2 separate regions of the Homo sapiens genome follow, and region 2 is linked to region 1. A link means that fine-mapping ties the variant in region 1 to the expression of a gene that starts in the linked region. Tissue or cell type: monocytes after interferon gamma. Region 1 holds a variant in brackets; the other region holds the start of a gene. All regions are shown on one strand. Distances are from middle to middle.

What was found.
Region 2: it holds the start of MVB12B, and the variant in region 1 is fine-mapped to the expression of MVB12B in monocytes after interferon gamma (Fairfax 2014, PIP 0.95).

Annotation. Positions count from the first base shown.
Region 1 is chr9:126,352,137-126,360,136 of GRCh38, forward strand. All of the region lies in intron 2 of MVB12B (multivesicular body subunit 12B), which reads left to right. Among named protein-coding and RNA genes, the nearest start is that of MVB12B, 29 kb to the left of the region's middle. The variant T/C (reference allele first, on the strand shown) is at 3,247.
Region 2 is chr9:126,320,729-126,330,493 of GRCh38, forward strand. It overlaps MVB12B (multivesicular body subunit 12B), which reads left to right and starts at 6,101. Exons shown (of 10, transcript NM_033446.3): 1 at 6,101-6,282. The coding sequence starts at 6,202. RefSeq lists a silencer at 6,086-6,225 and an enhancer at 6,667-7,318.

The sequences.
Region 1 (8,000 bases):
TCTGAAAAAGAAAGAAAAAAATGTTGTGTTTGTATTTATGAGGGATATTGATCTGTAGTTTTCTTTTTGTATACTGTCTGTCTGGCTTGGTAATACTAGATTCATAAAATGAATTGGAAAGTGTTCCATCCTCTTCTGTTTTCTGGAAGAGACAGTGTAGAATTAGTATTAATTATTTTTTAGATGTTTAGATGTGGAAGTCTGGGATCCTTACTCTGGCTTTGTTGGCATGGGTGGGTGTGGGGCCACAGTATTTTATGTGGCATTTGGCTGGGGTAGAGCAATTATTGTCTAAACATCTTCCCTCTTGCTAGGCTGCCCCCTGACTAGAGAAAGCAGGCTTCTGTTGTTTTTGTTTGTTTGTTTCTTTGGTTTTTGGTTTGTGTTTACTGCTGTTTCTGGGTTGCTGATTTCTTTAGCTTCAAGTCTGGGATATATGAGGCAGAAAGAAAACCACAGAACTCACCACCATGTTGTTCCCTGGGTCATGAGATCCCTAGCTGGTCAGACGGATTATTTCACCTTTCAGAGTCTTCTGGTGTTTGTTTGGTATAATTTCCAGTTTTTTTAGTTGTACTTACTGGGAAGATTAGGGAAAAGTATATTTACTCCATATTCCTGGAAGTGGAAGTACTGGCTTGCTTTAATTTTATGTTAATTCAGAGTTAGCCAGAGAATCTGTTTATTTCTAAGCCTGTCATAAATCTTTCCAAAACATTTATGTTTCAGCCTTAATATTATATATATAGGCAGGAAGTATGCTATTGTGTGCTTGTAAAATACTTGCTAGTTACTCCTTAAAGTATGGAAGACTCAAAATGCTGCGGAGCCATCTTTCTCAATTTTCGTAGTCCAGATTTATAGTATTAAAAGGCTGTTTGCAGGAGGGATTATGCAAATCAGGAAGAGGAGATGTGGCTGGAGATGAGGATTGTGGCTGGTGAGCAGTATTGAAAGGTGGAGACTACTGAAGAAGAGAAGAGTCCATGAGATGTCTCCAGGAAGGGGAGATGAGACTGGAAGGAAGGATCTGTTCTGGTTCTTGAAGTAGGCAGACATCCAGGGAATCTGTCAGCTCACTTCTGTCATTCATTCATTCATGTCTTTGTAAAGTATTGTTTTGTTTTAATAGTGCAAGTATTATACTGTATAAATACACTCTCACTGTAAAAGATTCAAGCAATAAAGCACTGTCACCTTCCCTTTCCCAGAGGTAATTATCGTTAACAGTTTGGTCTGTATCCCTCCAATCCTTTTCCCACAAATCTGCAAATACCTATTTATAGAGAGAGGCCCTATAGTTTGATGGTGACCTTGGTTAAGTTACTTTACCTCTTAGTGCCTCAGTTGTCTTGTCTCAAAAGTGAGGATTAATAGCAGGACTTTCCTCATAGAATTGTGTTGAGGATTAAATTAGCTAATGTTTGTAATGTATTTAACAGTGACTGGCAGTAGCGTGAGTGTTGTGGCTGTTACCTTAGTGTTATTATTATGTATTCTTATGCAGTACATAGTGTGCCTTGACTTTTCTTTTTCCCTTAACATTATATGTAAGAAGTCTCTCCATGTCATGACATGTCACTCAGCCTCTATTCTTCTACTGGTATGTTTCCCTACTGTAGAATAACTTAGTAACCACTGTGCTGCTGATAAAAATTTAGATTTTTCTTTTTGGTCTGTGAAAAGCAATGCTGATGATGAGTATTCCCATTCATACATCTCTGGGTGTGTGCTGGTGGATCAAAGGATGTGTACATTTTAAATTTCAGTAATTACTATACCAGGTAGCTTTTCAAAAATACTTCACCAATTTATATATACTCCTAGTAAACAGTATATCCAAATAGCTATTTACCCTTGTCCATACCATTACCCTTTATTGTCAGTCTTTTTATTACTTTTCAAAACTAGGAGCTCATTTTGCGAATGTGCAGTTCTGTGATTAGCAATAAGGCTGAGCATCTTTTCATGTTTCTTGGCCTTTTGCATTTGACTGTCAGTTTCCAGTTTTTGTAGCTGGCTCATATGGCTGGCTTTCTCTTCCTGGTTTCTAGGCTTCCCTTATATATTCTGTGTATTGGTTCTTTGCCTGTTATATATGTTACAGATATTTTTCTCTCGGACTGTCAATCTTTCAGTCTTGTTCATAGTATCACATTTTGTTGATATGTTTGTTCCTCTTATCAAAGTTTTGTTTCGTTTTTATGTAATCATATCTGTCAATCTTTTTCTTTCTTTCTTTATGATTGTTATGATTTGTTTGGTCTTAATTCTTTAAAAGACCTGTCTAGATGCTAAAACTAGGAGGTGATATTTTTATGAGAAACAGTGTATTTACAGAGTCTCAGAGTATCTTCCACAAAATAGTTGTTAATTACAAAGGAATAAAAGTGGGGAAACCCAGCAGATACCACTGTAAGCGAGTGATCCAAGTTAACATTACCAGTAATGAGACAATTAGATGTCATGTGCCTGCTGATATGCTACACTGAGAAGGACACAGCATGTAAATGACCACATGGATATGAAAACACATATATACACACATGCGTGGGAATGCAATGTATACATATATAAATACAGAGAAAGAAGGGGAAGCAAACATAGTAATGTTAACATTTTAGGGAATCTGGGGACAGGGTATATAGGAATTATTTGCATTATTTTTGTAGCCGATCTTGAAATATGAAATTATTTTTACATAAAAACTTAAAAAAATTAGAAACAAAAAAGCCTGACTACCTCAGGATAATAGAAATATCATCGATTTTCAGCTAATATACCGTCTATTTTATTGATTTGGCTTTTTAAACATCAGATTTTTATTTTGGAGTGGAGTATAAAGTGGAGTCTAACTTATTTTTTTCCAATTGTGTAGCTATTTTCTGAACACTGTCTTCTCCCTGTGGTTTTGATGAGCTGCATTTGTCATATGCTAGAGGTCTTTGCATATGCACAGATTTATGCTGATTAGAACGCTCGTTTCCTATCCCACAGATGAAACCCACGGCAGCTTCTTTTTCCTTAATATAGGGCCCTTATGCAGGGAATACAGGACATAGGGGAAAAAGAAATAAACTTTATTACCACCTCCTTCTGACCCCTGATGACCCCAAGCCAGACTCCAGCTAGCAGGTGAGGGGCTGATCCTGGAAGCCCCATCCTAGGGGTCTGCGGAAATGCTGGGTGGGCTTTGCCCTTCAGGCTGGGATGTGAGGCCCACGTGCATAGAGGTTGTAGTAGATA[T/C]AACAGCAGCTACACTGCAGCAGGCCCAGGGCCAGGGGCATAAACAATACTCAGGTTAGGTCAAGTCATACCACTAACAGCAAATCATGCCCTTAACATTCAACGCTACTTTTCTGCTTAAATTTAAAGTACTGCATTATGAGGGCGTTGCAACATCTTGCTTATAACTTAAGGCCTGCTGGCTTCAAATGATTTAGGAAGCAGCCTGCTGACCACAGGAAGAAATCTTGTTGTCGGGTGGCATTTGCTTGGGCCCCAAAGAGAGGGATTTTCCAGAATGTTTTTAGGCCGCATTCTCTTTAATTAATCAATTTAACCTATTCTTCTACAATAGCCCACTGTTTCAGTGATTGCAGGTTTATAGCATCGTTTTTGAAGTTAGCAAATTGTTGATTTTCTAAAAACTGAGGTAAAGTAACATAAAATTAACCATTTTAAAGTGAACAATTTAGTGGCATTTAGTACATTTATAATGTTGAACAACCACCACCTCTATCTAGTTCCAAAACATTTTTATCACCCCAAAAGGAAATCCTGTACCCATTAAAAGTTGCTCCTCATTCTCCCTTCGCTGCCTTCCTCTGGCAACCACCAATCTGTGTTCTGTTGCTATGGGTTTGCCTATTCTGGATATTCCATATAAATGGAATCATATAAGATGTGACCTTTTTTGTTTGGCTTCTTTCACTTAGAGTCATGTTTTCAAGGTTTTTAGAATATATTTTAATGTCTGCTAGAACTATTTCCTTCCTTCTCCTCTTTTTCAAAATTGTTTTGGTTACTACCACATGTTATTTTTTCTAAAAGAACTTTAGATTCAACTCGTCAAATTGCACAAAATACTATGTTTTGATCCTCAGTGCAATTGCAGTGGGTAATAAGTTGATTTGAAGGGATTCGACATATTTGCAATACTGAGTTTTCCTATCTGGGAGCATGATTTGGGTACTTAGGTCTTGTTTTGGTACTTCTTAGTTAAGTTTTAAAGTATCCCACAGATGTTTTGTCATTTCTGTTATTGTACGTACGTGTTTGGTTTCTGTTGCGCATGGATTTTTTTGATAGCTTTATAATTGACATACAATAGACTGCATATATTTAGAGTGTATGATTTGATGAGTTTTGGAGTATGTATGTAAATGTCTGGGACACCATCATCACAGTTAAGATAATGAACATGTTCATCACCCCTAAAAGGTTCCTCCTACCCTTTTACAATGCATCCCTGATTTAGTTTGGGTATTTTGTCACCCTGTATCTCATGTTGAAATGTAATCCCCCGTGGTAGAAGTAGGGCCTGGTGGGAGGTGATTGGATCACGAGGGCGGATTTCTCATGGTTTAGCATTCCCTTTGGGTGCTGTCCTTGAGAGAGAGAGTTCTCGAGAGACCTGATCATTTAAAACTGTGTGGCACCTGCCTTCATTCTCTCACTGCTGCTCCTGCTCTGGCCATGTCACATGCCTGCTCCCACTTCACCTTCCTCCATGAGTAAAAGCTCCCTAAGGCCCCCCAGAAGCCAAGCAGATGCCGGTGCCATGCTTGTATAGGCTGTAGAACCATGAGCCAATTAAACCCCTTGTCTTTATAAATTACCTAGTTTCAGGTATTCCCTGAGACTAGCAATGCAAGAATGGCCTAATACAAGCCATCACTCCCCCAACCCCACTTCTAGGAAACCGTTGGTCTACTTACTTTCTGTCACTGTAGTCTAGGTTGCATTTTCTAGAACTTTATGTAAATTCTTTATTTTGTCTGGCTTTTTTCCTCTCAGAATAATGATCTTGAGATTCATTCATATTGTTGAGTGTGTCCTTGTTTGTTTGTTTAATGAGTAGTGCTCTGTTGTACACCTGTATGACAGTTTACCTGTTGAGGGTTATTTGGCTTGTTTCCAGTTTGGGCTATTAAAGTAAAGCTGCTGTGAACATGCATATGCAAGTCTGTGTGTGGACATACACATTCATTTCCTATGGATAAATACCTAGGAGTGGAAGGGTTGGATTGCACAGTAGATGCATGTTTAACTTTAAAAGAAACTGCCAAATTATTTTCCAAGTGGTTGTATCATTTTATATCCCAGCAGCCGAGCATCTGAGTCTCAGTTCTTCCACATCCTTGCCAACACTTGAGATAGTCATTCTTTTAATCTTAACCATTCTAGTGGATGTGTATTTGTTTATGATTTTAGTTTGCATTTCTCTAACAAGTAATGATTTTGAGCTTTTTTTTTTTTGCCATTAGTATAACTTCTTTGGTGAAGCATCTGTTCAAATTTTTTACCTGCTTTTCACTGGGTTATTTGTCTTATTCAGTTGAAAGGGTTCTTTGTATATTTTAAGTACAATTCCTTTGTTGGATATGTATGAACTATTTTCTCCCAGTCTGTAGCTTGCCTTTTCATTTTCTTAACAGTATTTTTGAAAAGCAAAAGTTTTAAAATTTGATGAAGTCTAGTTTATTTTTTTTCTTTTATAGTTAGTGCTTTTTGTGTTACATTTACTAAATCTTTGCTAGCCCTAAGGTCAAGATTTTTCCTTCTAATCCCTTCTGGAAGTTTTATGGTTTTAGTTGTTATATTTAGATCAATGATGTATTTCAAGTTAATGGTTATATGTGATATGATATATGGATCAAATATCATTTTTTATATATAGCTGTCCAATTGTTCTAGTACCCTTTCTTTAAAAATCATCTGTTCTTCATTGAATTACTTTGGCACTTATGTCAAAAATCAGCTGATCGTAGATGTATAGGCACATTGCTAGACTCTGTTTTATTCCATTGATCTATAAGTCTGCCTGTATGCCAAACCCATACTCTTTGATTACTGTAGCTTTGTAATAATTCTTAACACCAGGTAGTCTTTTAACTTTATTCTTTTTCAAAGTTATTTTGGTCGTTCTAGGTCCTTCAAATTTTAATACAAATTTAAGAATAAGCATGTCAATTTTTACAAAAAAAAAAAGCCTTCTGGGATTTTGATTGGAGTTGTATTAAATGTGTGGGTCAATTCGCAGGTAGTTGACATCTTAACAATATTAAGTCTTCAGATCCATGGATGTGGTACATCTCTTCATTTATGTAAGTCCTCTTTAATTTCTCTCAGCAGTCTTTTAGTTTTAGTGTAAAGTCTGCAGATCTTTTGTCTAATCTTTCAGGCATTTCATATTGTTGATGCTATTGTAAATGGTATTTATTTTTACTTTAACTCCATTCTTGTTGATAGAAATACAATTGATTTTTGTAGATTGACTTGGTATTCTGCAATCTTGTTAAACTCACTTATTAGTTCTTATAACGTTTTTGAATATTTCTTACAACTTCCTATGTAGATAATTATGTTGTGTGTGAATAAAAACAATTTTACTTCTTCCTTTCCAGTCTGTATGCCTCTTATTTCTTTTTGTTGCCTCCCTGAACTGGCTAGAGCATCCAGTACACTATTGAGTAGAAGTAGTGAAATCAAGCATTCTTGCCTTTTCCCAAATCTTAGGGGGAAAGCATTCGGTGTTTCACCATTTAAATATGGCATTTGCTGTGGATTTTGAAATAGATACTATTTAACAGAAAGTACCCTTCCAGAGGGTTTTTAAATCATACATGGATATTGAATTTCATCACATGCTTTATCTGCTTTTATTGAAATTATCATATGGATTTTCTCTTTTTAATTTTAATTTTTTTTTTTTTTATGGAGACAGGGTCTCACTCTGTTGCCCAGGCTGGTATCCAGTCTCAGCTTCCCAGAGTGCTAGGATTACAGATGTGAGCCACCATGCCCAGCCTGGGTTTTCTCTTTTAATCATTTAATATAATGAAATACACTGATTGATTTTTGAGTGTTAAACCAAACTTCCATTTCTGGAATAAATCCCCCATGGACATAATAAATTGTCCTTTTAATATATTGTTAGATTCAATTTTCTAAAATTTTGTTAAGAAATTTTATGTGTATGTTCATAAGGAATATGGATTGGTCTGTGGTTTTCTTATAATATCTGGTTTTAGTATTAGGGTAATACTGGTCTCATATACTGAGTTGAGAAGTGTTCCTTTCTTGCCTGTTTTCTGAAATATTTAATGTTTATTTGGTATTATTTATTCTGTAAATATTTGCAGATTTTACCAGTGAGGCTCTCTGGGCCTGGATGTGGGAAGGTTTTTAAACAACAGTTCAATTTTTTAAATAGATGTAGTGTCATTCAGGTTATCTATTCTTAAATGAGCCTTGGTAGTTTGTGTCTGCTAAGGAATTTTTCATTTAATTTAATTTTTCTAATTCCTGGGCATAAAGCTGTTCAAAATATTTCCTTGTTATCCTTTTAATGCTTCTAAGATCTGGAGAATGTACTCTCTTTTATTCCCAATAATGGTAATTGGTGTCATCTCTCTTTTTTTCTTGCTCAGGCTGCCATCCTGGATCAAATAGTAGTTCTTTTTTTAGTTCTTTCCATTTTATTTTTGGTTATAGTCTTAGTTTTATCAATTTAATCAATCTTCTCAAAGAACCAGCTTTTGGTTTTATTGACTTTTTCTATTCTTGTTTTTAACTTTATTGTGTTCACTTTTTAAAATTTTTTCTTCTGCTTACTTTGGGTTAAATGTTCTATTGTTTAAGGTGGAAGTTTTGGTCATTGATTTGAGACCTTTCTTCTTTTCTAACATAAGCATTTAATGCTATGAATTTCCCTCCAAACTCTGAATTAGCTGCATCCCTCAAATTTTGTTGTGTTGTATATAATTTTAATTCCA
Region 2 (9,765 bases), 31 kb before region 1:
GAGTTTCTGAGAAAGTTTTTGCTGCCAGGCCATGACATCTGAAGCTGGGGGAGTAATCCTGCACCCATGAGGCAATGACAGAAAAGACATCAAGCTGAAGATGTCAAAGAAGTGTGGATGGACATGTATTCTTAATGGCTTCATTCTTTCTTAACAAGAAGACTGAAGATGATTACTGGCCAGTAAAATAAACACCTACTGTTCAAGCTACTGTTGGTTGAATTTTCTGTTATTTGTATCCATATTCCTAAGTGATGCAAATATGCTAAAATAAAAAATGATAGTCTCTGTGTAAACCATTCCCAAGACGTAGCCACTGTTAAACAGTTAACATTGGGTATATATTTTTTCAAGAATTTTATGCATATATGAATACATATAAATAATCACAAATACATATAAAATTGATGGGCTCATATAATAAATGCATTCTGTTCTAGAACCTCTTTTTTACTTAACAAAATACCATGATATATTTCTATGTCAGTACAGCTTTTTTAAATGACTCAATCTATTGCTAGACATTTAGGCTATGTCCAATATTTTCTCATTATAAGCAATGCTGAAATAATTATCCTTGAACATACATCTGTGTGCACTTGTCTGATTGTTTATTGTGGATAAATTATTAGACATGGACAAAGGGTACACACATATTAAATGTTGACACATCTATCTAGAAAATGTTTATTGAGGGGCTAGTATGTGTGGCACACTTATGCTTAGTGAACAGAACAGATATGTCTCCTGTCTGGGTGGAGCTATTTGTATGCTGGGAAGACTGACAGTTGAACAGGTTAACAAATAGTGGATGGTTCCAAATTGTGATGAGTGATAAGTAGGAAATGAACTAGTGGGGTATGGAAATAAAAGGGACCTACTTAGATAGATGACCCATGAAGGCCTCCAAGAGGGTGACATTTGAGCTGAGAGCTCAAGGATGAGAAGAGCCCAGACCCTATAAGACTGAAAAGAGTGCTGTAGGCAGAGTCACCCAGGGAAGAAAGAGCTTTGATGTTTAAGGATCTACAAGGAAGCCAGTTGGTTAGAATGGCTGAGAGGAGGATGGAGGGGAAGCTGGGTCCATATAGCATGGGACCTTGAAGGCTGTGCTGGAGCATTTAAATCTTATTTTATTTTATGGAAAGTCCCTGGAGGGCTTTAAGCAAGGGAGCACCTGCTGCATTTTTATTATTTATTTATTTTGTTTTATTTATTATTTATTTATTTATTGAGATAGGGTCTCACTCTATTGCCTAAGCTGGAGTACAGTGGCATGATCACAGATCACTGCAGCATCAACCTCCCAGGCCCAAGCAATCCTCCTACCTCAGCTGCCCGAGTAGCTGGAACTACAGGTGTGCCACACCATACAAAGCTAATTTTTGTTATTTTTCATAGAGATGGAGTTTCATCATGCTGCCCAGGCTGGTCTCAAACTCCTAGGCTCAAGCGATCCTCCTATCTTGGCCTCCCAAAATGCAAGGATTACAGGTGTGAGCCACTGCACCCAGCACTTATTATTATTTTTTTATTTTAAAAAAGTATTTATTTATTTTTTTAGAGACAGGGTCTCTCTGCCATCCAGGCTGGAATGCAGTGGTACAATCATAGCTCACTATAGCCTCAAATTCCTGGGCTCAAGTGATCCTCCTGCCTCAGCTTCCCAAGTAACTAGGACTACAGGTTCACACCACCATGTCTGGCTAATTTATTATTTTTTGTGGAGATGGAGTCTCACTATGTTTATTGATCTTGAACTCCTGGCCTCAAGCGATCTTCCTGCTTCAGCATTCTCCAAATGCTGGGATTATAGGCATGAGCCGCCATACCTGGCCTATTATTATTTGTTAATGATTGCTCTGGTTGCTACTTTCCATTGTTTGGGTAGGGCAAAGCCAGGAGACCAGTAAGGAAATTACTAGAGTGGTCTAGGCCAGAAAATATGGTTTGGAGTAGGGTGTATGAAATATACAAATTTGTATGCCTTATTTGTATACCTATATACAAATAGCTCAATAGATTAAAATGGATATTCCTATTATATACAATAGATGTATAATATACAATGGATATACCTATTTTTATAGGAATAGTTATTTAAAAATATACGCATTCTCAGCAAACTAACACAGGAACAGAAAACCAAGCACCACATGTTCTCACTCATAAGTGGGAGTTGAACAATGAGAACACATGGACACAGGGAGGGGAACATCACACACTGGGGCCTGTTGGGGTGTGGGAGGTAAGGGGAGGGAGAGCATTAGGATAAATGACTAACGCAAGCGGAGCTTAAAGCCTAGAGGACGGGTTGATGTGTGCCATGAACCACCATGGCACATGTATACCTGTGTAGCAAGCCTTCATGTTATGCACATGTATCCCAGAACTTAAAGTAAAAAAAAAACTATATCTACATCTATATCTATATCTATACACACAAATAGATCAATGGATAAAAACAAAGCATTTATAAACGGAACTTAATATATGACAAAAGTGTATATTCTTACACTAGTGGCCCATAGTTTCTTCTGAAGTTTTACATTATATTGTAATATTTGTTAGAGCAATATTTTCTCATTATTCTTCCATTTCAAAAATTTCATGGGTATTTCCTCATACTTATTTATCAAGATAAGTTTCTTGTTAGTTTTTTTTTGTTGTTGTTTGTTTGTTTGTTTCTGAGATAAGATCTTGCTCTGTTGCCTAGGCTGGAGTGCAGTGGCGTGATTATAGCCTACTGTAGCCTCAAATTCCTGGGTTCCAGCAATCCTCCCACCACAGCCTCCCAAGTAGCTGGGACCACAGGCACACACCACCATACCTGGCTCATTTAAAAAATCTTTTTAGAGACAGGGTCTCACTATGTTGCCCAGTCTAGTCGCAAACTCCTGGCCCCAAACAATCCTCCCACCTTGGCCTCCCAAAGTACTGGGATTACCAGCATGAGCCAACACACTCACGCCAATCAAGGTAAATTTTAAAATAATTTCATCATGTTCCATCTCACCTCACCCCTCAGATCATAGTGGTTTCTTGATCTGAATTTTACTAAATTTATAAAGTGAGTTGGGGAGACACAGCATCTTTGCACTGTTGAGACTTCCTGCCCAGGGATTTGTTATATTTTTCCGACTATTAAGATCTTCTTTTATGTCCCTCAGTCAGGTTTGTAGTTTTCTTTCCATGGACCTTCACATTTCTTGTTAAGCTTATGCCTAGTATATGCCTTATAGTATTCATTGCTAATGTGAATATGCTTTTTTTCCATCATACTTCCTAAATGGAAATAACTGGTATTTAGTGTTGTATTTGGAGGTCTCTGTAAGTAATACCTCCCTCCCTATTCTAAGTTTGGAACAAACTGGGGCATAGACACAGGAAAGAGACATAAGACAAAAATACTACCTTAATTTTTAATGAAGCTGACTGGAAAAAGTAGCTTTTGCTCTGTAGCTAAGTGGGCTTGCTATATTTCTCCCTGAATTGAGTAGATTTATTTGTGTAGTGGCGGGTGGTGCAGGAGAATAGTATCACTCTGTCCCTGAAACAGGTTCACTTAACCCACAGTGAGAGCGCATGGAAATATTTGCTCTCTGCAGTCAGCCAAATCCAAAAAGAGAACTCAGAAGCATCTATTCTTGTCCACTTTTTCCAAACTCACTCATCTTCCCTTAGAGTGGAGAGAGGCCAGAAGTCTTATTCTAATGGAAGTCCCTCTATATGGAAAAGAAGGCTTCTCCCTTCAATACCATAAGACAGGGTAAGGAAGAAAAAAAAGAATAATAATAATAATAATAATAATAATAATAAGAAGAAGAAGAAGAAGAAGAAGAAGGAAGGAGAAGGCTTCTCCCTTAACATTTAGGAAAACCATTGATTTTGGTGTTTATCTTATAACTGACCACCTTACCAAAGTCTCTATGATTTTTAGTTGATTTTTTTTATTTTTACTTTTTGGGAAACACTTAAATCATAAGCAAATAATGACAATTTTATCTCTTCCCTTCTAATATTTATATTTCTTATTTATTTTTCTTATCTTATTGCATTGGCTTTATTCTATAGCCATTATAGCAGGCATCCTTTTGACTGACTTACATGAGAATACCTTTAGTGTTTCACCATTAAATATGTTTGTTGATGGCTTCTGATAAACTTTGTCATGTTAAAAGTTTAAACTTTCTTCCTATAATAGTTTACTAAGAGTTTTTAGAAATTTATGGGTCATTAGTTTTGAAGTTTATAAAATACTTTTAAAGCATCTATCCCATTGATAATATCCTGTAATTTGTTTTCCTTTAACAATGCAATGCATTTACAAATTCCCTAATGTTGGATTTTTCTTGCGCCTCTGGAATAAATCTTGCTTGATCATGGTGGGTTTTCAGTTGCTTTAATAGTAAACTGGATTCAAATGGCTAAAATTGTATTTAATAGTTTTACGACTATTATATACTTAAATATATAGTGCAGATTCACATATTGAGGATTTATCAGTGAGCTTTAGAAGGTGGTCCTGGCTCAGATGAGTTTGGGAAATGCCAGGTTAAACAAACCAAACAGGTTTCTTTACTCCTGGACTTCACAGAGGCCTTCCTTAATATACGAATACTTATCGTGATTCTCCAAAAGGTACACTATAAACGGCATGCAGCACTTTCTCAAGTTGCCCACAGAAGCCCATTTTCAAAAAATAAATATTAAATTCTCTGGGGACTCGTGTTCTAGGTTAGTCATCTGCAGTTCTTTTTGGTATTGTCTGTTGGATTTTGGTATCAGGGTTATGCTAAACTTGGGAAATGAAATAAAAATTTTTGTTTCTTTTGTTTATTTTTTCCTGTGTAACAGTTTAAGTAACATAGGGATGATCTGTGCCCTGATGGGAGGATAAGGCTTGCTGTAAAGCCATCTGAACCCATGGCATTTCTGAGTAGTGAAGACACTGGGAATGCACACGTGCATGGCTTCCCTACAGGATGTTTCCCCCGACAGCCCATTCTGCTTGGCACCCTTCTCTTTAGGATCAAACAGCTATTATGGAAAAGCCTAGAATGTGTGAAAATGAGACTCAATGCATTAGCAAATCAATGCTGATCACTCCTGCATGGTCCTCAAGTCCTAACGAATGCTCCAGCCTCCTGGCAGGAAACCTTTCAAATCTTGCACACGCTGGCCTCTGCCTGGGGTGCCTGGCTGGGCGGTGTGGGGGGCATGGTTGGTTAAGGCGCAGAGTCCGCCTTTCCTACCAGCCACTCTAGCTGAGGGTCAAGCTCTGGACCCTCCCCCAACCATCCAGCTCCATTTTATCCTTGGCTTATGCCTTCCCCAAGTACTGCAGGGTAGGACTCCTGCTAAAAACTTCTTCTAGATGCTTGCCTGAGGCTGGCCCCATAAACCTGATTCTAGGCTTCTGGGGATAAATCATCTAACTAATATAAGAGAATTGCTAGGCAATTGGGGTTAGTTTGAGACGACTGGCTGAGCTCACCTTAGGTGAGCTGGGGGGTGGGGGAAGATGAGCTGAAGGATTCTAGGGTTCAGTGAAGCCTAGAATGGCTGGGTGGGCGGAGAGTCCTTAGAAGGGTCCAACTTCTAGCCTGAGGGCCTGGGGGCTTCCAGGGATCTGCAGCCGAGCGGAAGACCGGTCTTGCGTACAGCGAGGCCTACGAGAGCTAAGTGGGCTGAGGGTCCCTGGAAAAGACCAGCCTGGGGGCGGGGACCATCGATGCCCCAGGCTCTAGAGGCCGTGGGCTCCCGGGGGCCTGAGGCTGGACTGGGGTCGCCGGCGGGCTCGGGGAGGCCCGGGTGGGCGCACCGGGGCCCTGCCTGCGGCTGACGGGCTGGGTCGAGGGGGAGGCTGGGGAGGCGGGGTGCCGGCCGGGGCGGCGGCGCGGGCTCGGGACGCCAGGGCTCCCTCTCCCTCCTCCCGCCCGAGCCAGCCTCGGGCGCCGGGCGCCTCCCCCGATCCTGAACCAGCGCCAGCGCCGGGAGGCCCGGAGCCCGGCCCGCCGCCGCGGCCCGCGGAGGGAGCCGCCGCCGCCACTGCCGTTGTCGCCGCCGCCGCCAGGCCGCGCCCCGCCCCTCCGCCGCCGCCGCCGCCGCCGCCGCTCTCGGTGAGGCTCGCGCTCGAGCTGCGGCGCCGGCTCCTGCCGCCTGGGCCCCGGGCCCGGCCCCTCCCGCGCCGCCCGGGCGATGAGAAGCTGCTTCTGCGTGAGACGGAGCCGGGACCCGCCGCCGCCGCAGCCACCGCCGCCGCCGCCCCAGCGGGGAACAGTTAAGTGAGGCCCGGGCGCCGCGGAGGCTCGGCGGAGCCGGCCCTGCAGCCGGGAGGGCGGGCGGGCGGGCGCGGGCCCCCGGCCGAGGGGCGGGCGGACGGGAGGAGCCGGGCCGCGCCGAGGCCTGCGGGCTCCGTGCCCGGCCCGCGGCGGGGACAGGCCCGGGCGGCCTTTGCAGAGCCCCGAGCGCGCCGCGGCTGCCGGTGCCCGGGCTCGGCCTGGCGGCGAGAGGCGGGAGAAGCTGGGGGACCCGAGTGCCAGCAGCGCCCCCAAGGCCCGGGCAGGTGAGGGGCGCCGAGAGCCACCTCTGCCCGCGTGAGAGGGAGGCGGCCCACCTGGGCACAGACTGGGAACAGTCAATCGTTTGACCGGCCTGGCCTGGGGTCCTGCTCTCTCTGGTCACGTGGGTGCAGACCAACGTGCACCTGCCCCAGGAGCATCACTGCCTCTGTGACCTGGGCACAGCAGAGAGGACACCTAAACCCTCAGGCACCTGTCTGGAAGGTGACATGCCCAGCCTGGGTACCCGAGACCCAGAGCACCCATCCAGGAACATGGTGGGCACGTCGAGCACCCTACAGTGACTCCAACACCAGCGAGACGGGAGGAGCAGGGGCTGGGACAAGAGCTGAGGCATGGCACCAGGGGACATCACATCCTCAGAGGCAGGCACCAGGGAACGGGGTAGACCCAAGAGCATCTTTTGTCCTCTTTGTTACCAACACACAACTGTTCTAAATCAGCAGCCCTTCTCACCATGAAAGATGAGACTCTTCTGTTCCCTGCCCCTCAACACCTCTTGCACAAGGCACTGAGGAAGACCACAGGAGGGCAAAAGGCAAATGGTGGTTGCCCCTTCCCTGCTTCCTGCCCCCACCCAAGAACCAGAGCCCACTCCGATTGCTGCCACAAAAGCAGACAGCAGACCAGCTCCTCTTAGGGGCCTTTGTCTCTCGTGGTTCCTTCTCAGTATAATCTCATTGTACATTTCTCGACAGCTGGCTGGATCTCATCTCGTTTTAACAGGGCTGGGAAATCTTATCAGCGGCACCAGGAAAGCTTAGAGAGTTAAAAAATAAGCTCTGTGAAGCCTTGACTAACTGAAAAACTCAATGTGCTAGGATGTTTAGTTACAGTAGATGGTGACACCTTTCTTGCTTGTTAGAAATCATGTGGGGTCCTTGGAGATACTGTACCATGCTCAGAATCTTTAAATAGGGCCTCAGAGAGATGAGGCTTCTGCTTGGGACCCGGGCTCCAAGCCCCATGGGAAGCAGTTGACGTGGCGATTACTGGTTCATTTAAACCTAAACTTACCTTCTGTAATCCATATTTTTCATTCCTTCCTTCTAGGCTTTAGGTCACACTCCTAATTTAGGTTCAAGGCATTTTTCTTGCCCTGTCTCCATCCTGCTAGGGACCTTTTACCACTTCCAACTGGAATGTTGTGCCATGGTTATGTGCAGGGAGTTTAGAATTAGCCCTCAGCTTAAGTCTTGGCTTTCCTACTTACTTTGTGCCCTTGGACAAATTATTGAACTTTTCTGAGTTTCAGTTTCCTCATCTGTAGAGTGAAACTAATGATAGTATTCATCTCATGGGATTATGGCGTGATGTAAATGAAATTTTGCAAGAAAAGTCTAGCTCAGTGCCTGCTACATGGCAAGAAGTCAGTAAACGGTAGGGGTCATTATGAGAGGTTTGTTAACGGATGAATGAGAGGAGTAGCTTATTTATTTATTTTTAGAGTTTCTTTCTGTCTGCTTTTTTTTTGGTTTTTGTTTGTTTTTGAGACAGGGTCTCACTGTCACTCAGGCTGGAGTGCAGTGGTACCATCATGGCTCACTGCAGCCTTGAACTCCTGGACTCAAGCGATTCTCCCACCTCAGCCTCCCAAGTATAGGTGCCTGCCACCACGCTCGGCTGTTTTTTTAAATTATTATTATTTTTAGTAGAGTTGGGGTCTTGCTATGTTGCCCAAGCTGGTCTTGAACACCAGAGCTTAAGTAATCCTCCCACCTTGGCCTCCCAAATTCCTGGGATTACAGGCATGAGCCACCACGCCTGGCCTATTATTTAGTCTTCAACGGGACAACCAGGAAGTGATGGTATAGTAGAAAGAACACTGGACTTGGATTTAGGAGCTTGAGTTTGACTCTCAGGCTACCTCCTGGACCCCAGGTGACCCTAGGGGAGTCACAGAACCTTTCTGAATCCCCATTTCTGTAATGTAAAAGTGTCTTAAGAACAAAGCCTACCCCATAAAGCTAATCAGTCAAGAAGAGCTGAAGGAGCTAATGTATGTGACTGCACTTGGCACTGCAGGAGGTGGCGGTCCTCATGAAATTTAAGTGTGCGATTCAGCATCCAGCAGCAGATCATGGTGTTTTTTTCAGGTCCGATGTTTATACAGTTTGTTGCGGGGAGAGCATTAAGAAAAAGAATACAAGAATATCCTGTGTTTGTACATGTTACAGAACCACGCCACCATGTGAGCACACTGCTGGATGCCCTCTCAGGGCCTTGGAAGGGGTAAGGGAGAAGTGTAGTCTCTATCCATTTCATGGAGGATCTTCTCCTGGGGGGATCAGAATCCAAATGGCATAGGCCCCTCTGTCTGAGTTTGCTGGAAGTGCTCCATACTCAAAGGGAGACATCCTTGCCACACTGCAAAATAATGATGGTGCTGGAGTCAAGCATGGGAAAAGTCGAAGGTGCTATTATGATGATGAAGATAACAAATGACTACATGGCTGGATGTGGTTAGGCTGAGCACACTGTGTTGCAGAGCCTCCTTTGCAGGTTGGGTTGTGGAGGGGAGGCCTGGGTTTCTTGAATAGACTCCTTCTCCCCAGGCTGCTCTGGCTCTCACCGAGGCCCACCCTGGCCAGCATTTCCCCAACCCACCCCGCCCCCAACCCCGGCTCTCCTTGGCCTTCTGCTTGCTGGGCTGCCCTAGGGAATCGTGGCTTCCCTGCGCTGTCTGCACTAGTTGCAGTGGGTTTGCCAGAGTCAGGTCTCCTGTCTCCGGCTGCCTGGGAGGCAAAGCCACTGCAGAGTGTGCTTGACATTACCTCCCTTGTTGGGGACATCCTGTGGGCATGCATTTGGTTTACTTGACACGCTTCTGGCGAGATGCAGAGCTTGTCCAGGCAGAAATGTGAGAGCCCTGTGGGCCTGGAGCCCAGGGGTTGCACATAGTAGCTTTGTGGCTCATACTTCCCTTAGGACTGGAGGGCCATCTTGTTGGACCTGTGGCAGGAGTCAACATGAGTTTGTTCTTTCTTTCTTTACACACACACACACACACACATACACACACACTTAAAAAAAACAGATTCTAATCAGCAGAGCAGAATATTCAAAAGAATATCCCCTGATCCTTTAGAAGAGAGAAATAAATGAGTTTGTAATGCACTAAATATGCCTGTGGTGTTGATGAAAATGCAGATTCTAGGACCTCATACTCAGACTTTATTGA